Linked DNA regions of Homo sapiens: region 2 is linked to region 1. The links come from fine-mapping of genetic effects on gene expression. A gene starts in region 1. The other region holds a variant in brackets. All regions are shown on one strand. Distances are between the middles of the regions. Region 1 holds the start of LINC00997 (long intergenic non-protein coding RNA 997). Region 2 overlaps AVL9 (AVL9 cell migration associated).

Region 1 (5,386 bases):
AGCATATTTACAAAAATTTAAAGTTTTCAGCCTTTTAAAAATTATAGCAACTGTGCTTGCAGACAGTCCAAAAATACACTGTGGGCCATACTTTGCCTATCCTGGTGTAAAACAAGTAAATCTTCTGAGAAGTATTTAAGATAAGCCCAGGGCAGTTAGTAGTATAGGAAAAGGTCTGGATAAGCATGGTTGAGAATTTCAACATTGCAATTTTTTAATTTTAAAAAATTTAATTTCTTCAACAATTATTAAATTAATTTGCATTTATTTTGTTAGCCAAGAGGAGTAATTTTTGAATTTTTAAGAGGCTATTATTGGTGGTTTATAAGACGACTTGCCAAGTATATTTGGGATAACCATAAGAAATACCATTATAAAATCTCAGAAGGGAGGTAGGACTTCTGGAATAGCCAAGGAAATGCACTCCTCCATGATGACAATGAAAATACTTGGAAAATTATCAAAATCATTTTCTTCAAAACTTTGGAAGTTAACCAAAGGTTTACAACAATCTAAAGGGCATTAATTCAAGAAAAGCTGCTGAACCTCTATAAGAACAGCAAAGTCTGTGGTGTTTTAACTTGTTCTATTCCCCACTTTTCTCTCTCCAGCTCCATGGTACCCTTGAAAACAAGCAATTCCCCAACGAAACAGGGGCACAGGCTGCGTTTGCAGCTCTGGTAAAAGCTCCATACCCAGAGCAGTGTCTCCCAGCTCCCTGGTGAAGTCTTACGTATACATGGGGTGCTGGCACAGGTGCCTCCAGATAAGTCTCCTAGGCCATCTAGTAGTTCCTAAGTCTGGGCGCTTGCAAAGAGCTTGCAATTCATCAAGGGTTGAGTTGCACAATGGGGCTTTTAGATGTGCTGCTGAGGAAGTGATTGCCTGCATTTAATCGTCTTCTGATGAATGCTAGAGAAACTGATCTAGAGTGGCACCTCTTGGTTAGAACGAGCTGAAGCATACTGTATATATTTACTTCTTTAAAAAATTTCATATAAAGGAATAGAATACTAAAAAGAAAAAAAAACAAAAAAGGTCACAATATTCCATAATTCCATCACTCCTACCAATTAACTGAAGTAAAAAAACCCTCTCAAGTCTCTCCCTTTGCTTGTCAAGCCCTGCTGCAGAGAGGTAAGCTCTGTTCAGAATTTACTTTGTGTCCTGGATTTTTTCCTATGCTCATAGAGACAGGATTAGCTGGCCATCTTGCTTTCTGTGCTATCTTTTCTAGACATGTAAAATAATACATTTGAAATACTTGTTTTAATGGTATTTTATAATAAAGCAGCTTTTAATAACTTTTCTCTTTTCCAGCCGTCTTTGTGGCAATTTTACATTGGTAAGATTTAGTTTCAGTTCGAAATATTTAAAAACATTTGAATTAAAAATTGCCATCACTCTTTGCATACAGTAAAACAATAACTTCTGGCTATATTTGTAGAACATCTTTATGTACGCCATTTTATACATATATTTTGCTTTTTTACAAACCTCATATGTGAAACAGCATTTACAAAATAGATGCATTGGGGGAATAGTAACTTATGAATTAAAATATTTTGGCTTTACCAAATAATTCACCACGTTTTTAAAAATATCTAGCTTTTCTAGTGTATTTTGCATGTGTAGTTCATTTAAAACCCTCCTTTGTTTTATGGTAATTATATGTTGCTAGTGAAATAACTTTTTTTTTTTTTTTTGAGACAGTCTTGCTCTGTCTCCCAGGCTGGAGTGCAGTGGCGCGATCTTGACTCATTGCAACCTATGCCTCCCAGGCTCAAGTGATTCTCGTGCCTCAGCCTTCTGAGTAGCTGGGATTACAGGTATGCGCCACCACACCCAGCCAATTTGTTGTATTTTTAGTGGAGATGAGGTTTCACCGTGTTGGCCAGGTTGGTGTCAAACTCCTGGCCTCAAATGATCCACCTGCCTTGGCCTCCCAAAGTGTTGGGATTACAGGCATGAGCCACCACGCTCAGCTAGTGAAATAACTTTGGTGATAAAGTTTTAGTAACACCCGCCAATTGGAAGTCAGGTAAAAAAGAAGATAAAGATTCTGCAGTGGTTATACAGAGTTAAATGGCTTTGACTCTTTCAGTGTGCAAGGCTGTGTACATTATTTTACAAAAGTGTTTATAAAAATTTGTAAAATAATATTTCCCTCTGGAATATTTTATTTTTACCTGTGCTCAGCGATTTCTACCCTTGGAAGGTATGAGATCTGCCCCTATGTTCTATTGATACAGTGCTGCTCTAGACATTTAGTCTGCAGGGAGATTTTGGTATTAGAACTGAGGCTGCAATGCTAGGGAATATTCCTGCAGTTTTTGGTACCCTGGCATATGTCCTACATGTAAAGAAGGGTTAGTGGAAAACAGGGTTAATACATGGAACTTTGCTTTATTTTCAACTTCACTGGAAAGTACTGACTACATAAGTTAGCTATAGCATAATTGTTGACCACAGCTAATTTTGTTTATCACATATGCTCCTTTCTTCACTGCCTACAGCTGCTGAGTTTCACTACTAAAAGGTCTTCAAGTACACACCTGTATTCTTTGGCGCTTGAAAGTTGATCCTTTATGTGATATTATACTTATTGTAAGTCTGTTTTGATCTAAAGTAATTTTATTTAAAATTATATTCTGAACCCTTTTCAACAGTTACGGAGGTATTTCCCAAGGCTGGTACATTAGAATCACTTGAAACTTAAAAAACAAACACTAACCTGCCTCTGTTCTGATTTAGAGGCCTGGGATGGAAGGAAGGGTGAAACAAGCCACAAGAATTTTAGATATACAATTAAGTTGGTTTTTTTTTTTTGAGACAGAGTCTTACTCTGTCGCCCAGGCTGGAGTGCAGTGGCATGATCTCTGCTCACTGCAACCTCCGCCTGCTGGGTTCAAGCAATTCTTCTGCCTCAGCCTCCCTAGCAGCCAGGATTACAGACATGCACTACCATGGCTGGCTAATTTTTGTATTTTTAGTAGAGACAGGGTTTCACCATGTTGGCCAGGCTGGTCTCAAACTCCTGACCTCAAGTGATCTGCCCGCCTCGGGCTCCCAAAGTGCTGGGATTACAGGCATGAGCCAACGCACCCGGCAACAATTAAGTTTAAAAACCACTGAGTTAAGGAATTTCAGGTGTGTGCCATACTGCATTATAAATGCCTAAAAACATACGAGTTAGTAAGCAAATTATAAAAACAATATTATAACAATTTATTGTTTCCTTTTTTATGGCTTTCTTACTTATCGCTTATTTTAATGTTGGTTTTGAAACTTGTTCTTATTGTAATATGATACTTCATTGCACTGTTTCATAAGCTATAACCCAGGTTTATTATTTAAATAGTAAAGTGTTTGAGATTATTTTTCTGTTACTTCATTATCTCTCACCCTTTCCTAATGCAGACTTCTTTTTAAGATAATGAAGATGAATTATAGTAGCTGAGGAAGGAGGACAAAGAAAGCACTGAAGAAGTGATAAAGGGGAATGAAATGAGATGTTATCAGAAATTGCTTTTTCTTTGGCTACAGTTGGGAGGTCCCATGTTTTACTGGGTCTTTTACTGATGATGATTATTATTTGGTTCTCTTTTGATTTCAAGATAATCTCTTTTAAGAGATGACTTTTGATATAATTTTTAAATATTTTTCTGTTTTTCGATACTTAATCTTTAAAATGGAGTTTTCTGCCATACACATCTCACATAATTATTGTGAGGAGTAAATGGGATAGCGAATACCAAAATTGTGCAATTTTACATTTAGAAGACACCACAACCGTCCATCTTCCAGATCTGCTCCCAGCTGGTCGGGGGCCTACTGAAGCATTGAAGCTGACTCTCCTCACTCTAGCCATTGCTTTTTGTTTAAATTATGGTGAAATTTAGATTTAAGTTTGTAATAGAAAAATGTCAATGGTTATCATTTAAGCGTACAATTCAGTGACATTAAGTACATTCGTGTTGTCTTGCAACTATTACCACTGTCCACATCCAGAACTTTTTGCTATCCCAAACAGAAACTCCACCCACTAAACACTAATCACACTCAGCTCTATTTTCTATCTCTATGATTTTGCCTATGCCAGGCCCCTCCGTCACTGCTTTTTAATTTTCATCCCTATATTGCCCCTATAAAGTTTCAAAGCATTGGATACATTAACATATGTATGACATTTGAACATTTTAAAGAGAATATTTAATATTTCCCTAAATATAGACTTTTGCATATTAGATATCCTTTAATTATTGTATTGCTTTATCCTCCTAAGCAGAAAGGAAAATTCTTTATGAACTCATATTTTGCCAATCAACTATGAGGTAATGGCCTTTCAGACATCAGCTAAAACAGACGTTTAATTTAGTAGTTACTCGTGTTGGATGAGGCAGATATGATTATAGCATATAGCATTTTTTAGGGAGAATGCATTTTAAACAATGTGGCCCTTTTTTGCTTTTAGATTTTAGGAGCGAAAGCAAGAAATTGATGGGGAAATAAGACATAACATGCTATTGTTAATCCATGAATTTTAACTCAACAGCACTTTTACTATCCTAATGAAGCCTTTATTTTATATGCTGAAGTGTAAGACACTAAAATAATCTGCTTTTTAGTACATAGTATTTGTGAGCAACAATAGTCAATCAACATTGAGCTTTCACTTAGCACAGAGGATTAGATGGAGCTATGAATTAAGCTAGAAGCACTGGATTCCTTGCTCATGATGCTTATGGTCATTATATTTTATTTCCTAAGAGCATGGGAAAAAAAGAAGTAATTTTCTATATGCAAAGTTGTACAGAGGCATGAAGGCATCCCTGTTTATGACAGAATTAATCAGATGTCAACCTTCAAGCATCTCAAATGTGGGGGATAAAACCAGATTTGGGAAAATTGAACATATACTGTCTACACATTTTAAGACATTATTAGAGAAACTCTTTAAATCATTCGACCATCCCTCCAACTCTTTAGTTTGAAAGCCTATAGAAAACTTGAAAGAATAGTACAGTGATCACCTGAAAATACGTGCTTTTTAAAGTCCAAGAATGCAAAATAGCGAGGCGTAATTAGGAAGTCTTATTATTGACCTTTTTTTTCAGAAAAAAATGTTCTAAAGAAGTGATAAAAATAAATATTTTAAAGTTTTAATTACATTGACAACATGTGCCTTCTTTTTTTTTTTTTTTTTTTAAAGGGACTTTTATTCCTACTTCGAGACCAATATTGAAGCACCTTCATTTTTGGAAGGACTGGGGACGATAATGAATGACAGGCTTACTGAAATCCTCTTGGAATTAATGCAGTAAAATGCTTCCATCTTTATCCAGAGGTGAGTCATAATTTGAGACAAATAATATATTTATAGAGT
Region 2 (5,386 bases), 260 kb after region 1:
AGAAAAGGTGCAAAAAGCCACAAGGATGTTCTTTGCAGCGCTATTCAAAATAGTGAAAAATTAGAATGCCACCTAAGTATCTAAAAAGGAGATCAGTTAAATAAAAGTATTTCTACAAAATACTATTTAGCAATTTTAAAATATAATTCAATTATTTACTAATACAGAAAAATATTAATGGTATATTTCACATGAAAAAGGTAGGCCATGAAACATGATTATGGTTTGATACCTTTTCTTTCTTTTTTTTTTTTTTTTTGAGAAAGGGTTTTACTCTCTCACCCAGGCTGGAGTGCAGTGGTGCCATCTCGGCTCACTGCAGCTTCGACCTGCTGGGCTCAAGTGATACTCCTGCTTCACTTTTTTGTGACCAGTGCACTCACACCAGCCTCCCAAGTAGCTGGGACTACAGGCATGCACCTCCAAACCTGGCTAATTTTTTTACTTTTTGGCAAAGATGAGGTCTCCCTATGTTGCCCAGGCTGGTCTCGAACTCCTGGGCTCAAGCGATCTTCCCATCTTGGCCTCCCAAAGTGCTGGGATTACAGACATGAGCCACTGTGCCTGGCCAGTACATATTTTTTTTTTATCATAAATGTTATTTTCAAAAATACTGAAATATGATTTAAAAACTGCCAAAAATATCAGCTTAGATAATATCCTCTAAAAATATCCTAGGGAGAACCTGAGTTCTTAATCCATATAAAAAAGGAGCAGTCTTAAAATTAAGTAGGTAAGTAGGCTCTTCTCCCTATGTGTCTGCATCTTTCTGTTGTCCATCCCTAGTAGATTAGGGCCCTTCTGCAGTCTTCCCTTTAGCAAAAATCTACATTCAGCAAAGGATCTGAATCATATCAATGACATGAAGTAGATGATTACTCATGGTGTATAAGTATTTTACTAGGGATCAAAGGCTTAAGCCAAAGAAAGAAATTAGGCACATTCTTGCTAGCTGGGAGGACCCATAAGAGAACAAAGGAATCTTCCTGATATTTCAAAGTTCTAGTACACAAGTTGACACCCACTCCGCTTAGCCACAATGCCAAAGCCTGAATGAAAACTATTCCATTGTTCTGTCAATGCTGCAGCCCTGCTAAGTCAGAGATTTTCATAATTTCAGCATATACAAAAAGCATGGCCAAAATCAGGAAAAACCATCTACCAAAATATTAAAGTTGAAGAAATAAAAGTGCAGTGAAGGGCCAGAAAATGCAATCTTGTTTCAGAACAAAGTTTCTGTAAAACTAGCAGCTAAAAAGAATCTTAAAAGGTTATTCTTCCCTAACTGCTAACCCTTCAGTTTTCTTCTTTCTTGTTCCAAAGAACTACTTATTGCAACAAGAATCAAACAAACCCTCCCAAATGTTTCATTATTGTCACCACAGGATTTCATTAATAGCAGTTGCCAAAAAAGGCTTGTCAGTGAGTCATCTGTCACCAAAACCTGAATCACTCAGGGCTTGAGTATAGTTGTAGCACTCCAACATAAACAATCCCCCTAATATCAACCCATTTCTAAATTTGCAATGCAACATTCTGCTACCCCATGGAGACTTTCTTGTGACCAGTCCACTCACACCAACAGGAAAATCTGCCATTTTCTTCACTGCTGCTGGTTGCTTTACTCACTGGTGGAACTAGTGTTAAGATTAGTTCTAGCTCTTTTATACTTCTGCTTTTTAGACATATAGACCAACGGGACAGAACAGAGGTCTCACAAATAACACCACACATCTACAGCCATCTGCTCTTTGACAAACCTGACAAAATAAGCAATGGGGAAAAGATTCCCTATTTAATAACTGGTGCTGGGAAAACAGGCAAGCCATATGCAGAAAACTGAAACTAGACCCCTTCCTTACACCTTATACAAAAATTAACAGAGGATGGATTAAAGACTTAAACTAACACCTAAAACCATAAAAACCCCAGAAGAAAACCTAGGCAATACCATTCAGGATATAGGCATGGCAAAGACTTCGTAACTAAAACACCAAAAGCAATTGCAACAAAAGACAAAATTGACAAATGGGATCTAATTAAACTAAAGAGCTTAAATTAAAAAAAAACTAAAGAGCTCTAATTAAACCAAAGAAACTAGCATTAGAGTGAACAGGCAACCTATGGAATGAGAGAAAATTTTTGCAATCTACCCATCTGACAAAGGCCTAATATCCAGACTCTACAAGGAACTTAAACAAATTTATAAGAAAAAAAACAACCCCATCAAAAAGTGGGCGAAGGATATGAACAGACACTTCTCAAAAGATATCTGTGC[A/G]GCCAATAAACATATGAAAAAAAGCTCATCATCATTGGTCATTAGAGAAATGCAAATCAAAACCATGAGATACCATCTCATGCCAGTTAGAATGGTGATCATTAAAATGTCAGGAAACAACAGATGCTGGAGAGGATGTGAAATAGGAATGCTTTTACACTATTGATGGAAGTGTAAATTAGTTCAATCATTGTGGAAGACAGTGTGGTGATTCCTCAAGGATCTAGAACCAGAAATACCATTTGACCCAGCAACCCCACTACTGGGTATATACCCGAAGGATTATACATCATTCTACTATAAAGACACACACAGACACGTTTATTGCAGCACTATTCACAATAGCAAAGACTTGGAACCAACCCAAATGCCCATCAATGATAGACTGGATAAAGAAAATGTGGTACATACACACCATGGAATACTATGCAGCCATGAAAAAGAATGAGTTCATGTCCTTTGCAGAGATATGGATGAAGCTGGAAACCATCATTCTCAGCAAACTAACACAGGAACACAAAACCAAACACCACATGTTCTCACTCATAAGTGGGAGTTGAACAATGAGAACACATGGACACAGGGAGGGGAACATCACAGACTGGTGCCTGTTGGGGGATGGGAGGCAAGGGGAGGGAAAGCATTAGGACAAATACCTAATGCATATGGGGCTTAAAATCTAGATGACTGGTTGATGGATGCAGCAAACCACCATGGCACATGTATACCTATATAACAAACCCGAATGTTTCGCACATGTATCCCAGAACTTAAAGTATAATTAAAAAAAAAAATTGTTATTCTGCCTTTTTTGTATTAGAAATACAGTTTGGTAAATCCAGTTTACTTAAGACTTAAAACTGCTAGCTATGTATACAAAACAATAAACTATCAGAAAAGTGGCCAAAAATTAAGTAATTATTTCAACTTTTTATGACATCACTTTGGAAAATAACCTATTCCCTTTTAACTTGAGTAGTTAAAAAAGTTCTAACCTGTTTATGAAAAAAAAAAACAGAGTTAATGTGATATATATTTGATGCTACTTAGCAAAAAATTTTGGTAGTCCGACAAGTATAATTTATATATTGGAACAAACAAAACTCTGGAATACACAATCTATAACAAGCCAATTTACTACAGAGAAGGTATCCATAAATTATTTCATGCCAAAGGGTCTAATGTCAGATAAATTTTTGTTTTGTTTCGTTTTGAGACAGGGACTCATTGTCGCCCAGGCTGGAGTGCAGTAGGCAGATCTTCGCTCACTGTAACCTCCGCCTCCCAGATTCAAGCAAATCTCCTGCCTCAGCCTCCCAAGTAGCTGGGATCACAGGCATGTGCCACCACGCGCAGCTAATTTTGTATTTTTAGTAGAGGCGGGGTTTCACCGTGTTGTCCAGGCTGGTTTCGAACTCCTCACCTCAGGTGATCCACCCGCCTCGGCCTCCCAAAGTGTTAGGATTACAGGCATGAGCTACTGCACCCGGCCACACTTAGTATCCCTTGTTAAATGTTAAATTATCCCTTGTTAATTATTATCCCTTGTTAAATATTAAATTTTAAACAATTCAGTAAAAAGTTGAAATGAGTAAATATTTTGAAACAACTTTAAATGTTATGGTAGAACTCAAAAAAATCACTTAAAATGTTCTAAATGTTAAGTATATCAGTAAACTAGAAAAATGACATCTAGAAGCTAACACGCTATCTACAGAAGAATTTACTTCCACAAGTTACCCAAATAAAAGTGAAAAAAAAAAAAAGATCAAGTGATAAAGTTAATAGATGTTCATTTAAATTCAAATGAAGGAATTTTTCATTTAAAATACATCTGGCCTGATGCCTGTAATCCCAGTACTTTGGGAGGCCAAGGCGGGTGGATCACTTGAGGTCAGGAGTTCTAGACCAGCCTGACCAACATGGTGAAACCCCGTCTCTACCAAAAATATAAAAAATTAGCCAGGTACGGTGGTGCATGCCTGTAATCCCAGCTACTTGGGAGGCTGAGGCAGGAGAATCACTTGAACCCAGGAGGTGAAAGTTGCAGTGAGTGGAGATCGCGCCACTGCACTGAACTCCAGCCTGGGTGACAGAACAAGACTCCGTCTCAAAAAAAAAAAAAAAAAAAAAAAATCTGAGGACTTCAAAGGTGGAAAAAGTGCTAGAAACAAAATGAACTAACATTTTCCACAAGCCTAGTTTTGGGTCTTCAACACAGCAGTATTAGAAGATGGCTTTTACTTTGAGGTCCATGTCAAATGACAAAGTTATCATGCTTAACCAAGCGGACTGCTGAAAGGCATCACTTTTAAAACAAAGGTTTTACTTCAGTCACTTCTATTTAAAAGTTACAAATTACGACCAAGTATAGGAATCTTCCCTATGCACAATCTCAGCGCACATTTAGAACTAATGGTCATGACTGGGCGTGGTGGCTCACGCCTGTAATCCCAGCACTTTGGGAGGCCGAGGCGGGCGGATCACGAGGTAAGGAGATCGAGACCATCCTGGCTAACATTGTGAAACCCCGTCTCTACTAAAAATACAAAAAATTAGCCGGGCGCGGTGGCGGGCGCCTGTAGTCCCAGCTACTCGGGAGGCTGAGGCAGGAGAATGGTGTGAACCCAGGAGGCAGAGCTTGTAGTGAGCCGAGCTCCACTGCACTCCAGCCTGGGTGAGAGAGTGAGATTCCATCTGAAGAAAAAAAAAAAAAAAAAGAACTAATGGTCAACATGACCCACGGCAATTTTGAATACTTGGAAGAGCAGTCTAAGTACCCTCACACAAGTTAAAACCGTGTTAAGTCAGAGTCACAACTCAATGAGCCATGCACCTTTAATTTACACCTGGAAGTAAAATAGTTAAAGTGGAGAATTAGGTAGCTGATTAATCTATCCTGGGGCAAATCTTACATACTTTAATTAAAGCCTCTGAAAACACCTGATGTACAGGTTATAAAGAACAGATTCTAGACCAGTCATTCTAAGACTTATGCATGTAACACACACTTTCCAAAACTTTTTTTTTCGCTCTTGTTGCCCAGGCTGGAGTGCAATGGCGTGATCTCGGCTCACAGCAACCTCTGCCTCCCGGCTTCAAGCAATT

Evidence for each region. PIP is the estimated chance that this variant, and not a neighbour inherited with it, causes the effect. A credible set is the group of variants that fine-mapping cannot tell apart.
Region 2: its variant is the best candidate, but not a certain one, in a credible set for the expression of LINC00997 in visceral fat (GTEx, PIP 0.54).

Annotation. Positions count from the first base shown.
Region 1 is chr7:32,755,235-32,760,620 of GRCh38, reverse strand. It overlaps LINC00997 (long intergenic non-protein coding RNA 997), which reads right to left and starts at 2,335. Exons shown (of 1, transcript NR_036501.1): 1 at 1-2,335.
Region 2 is chr7:32,497,266-32,502,651 of GRCh38, reverse strand. The region is part of intron 1 of AVL9 (AVL9 cell migration associated); the gene reads right to left. Among named protein-coding and RNA genes, the nearest start is that of AVL9, 4.5 kb to the right of the region's middle. The variant A/G (reference allele first, on the strand shown) is at 2,279.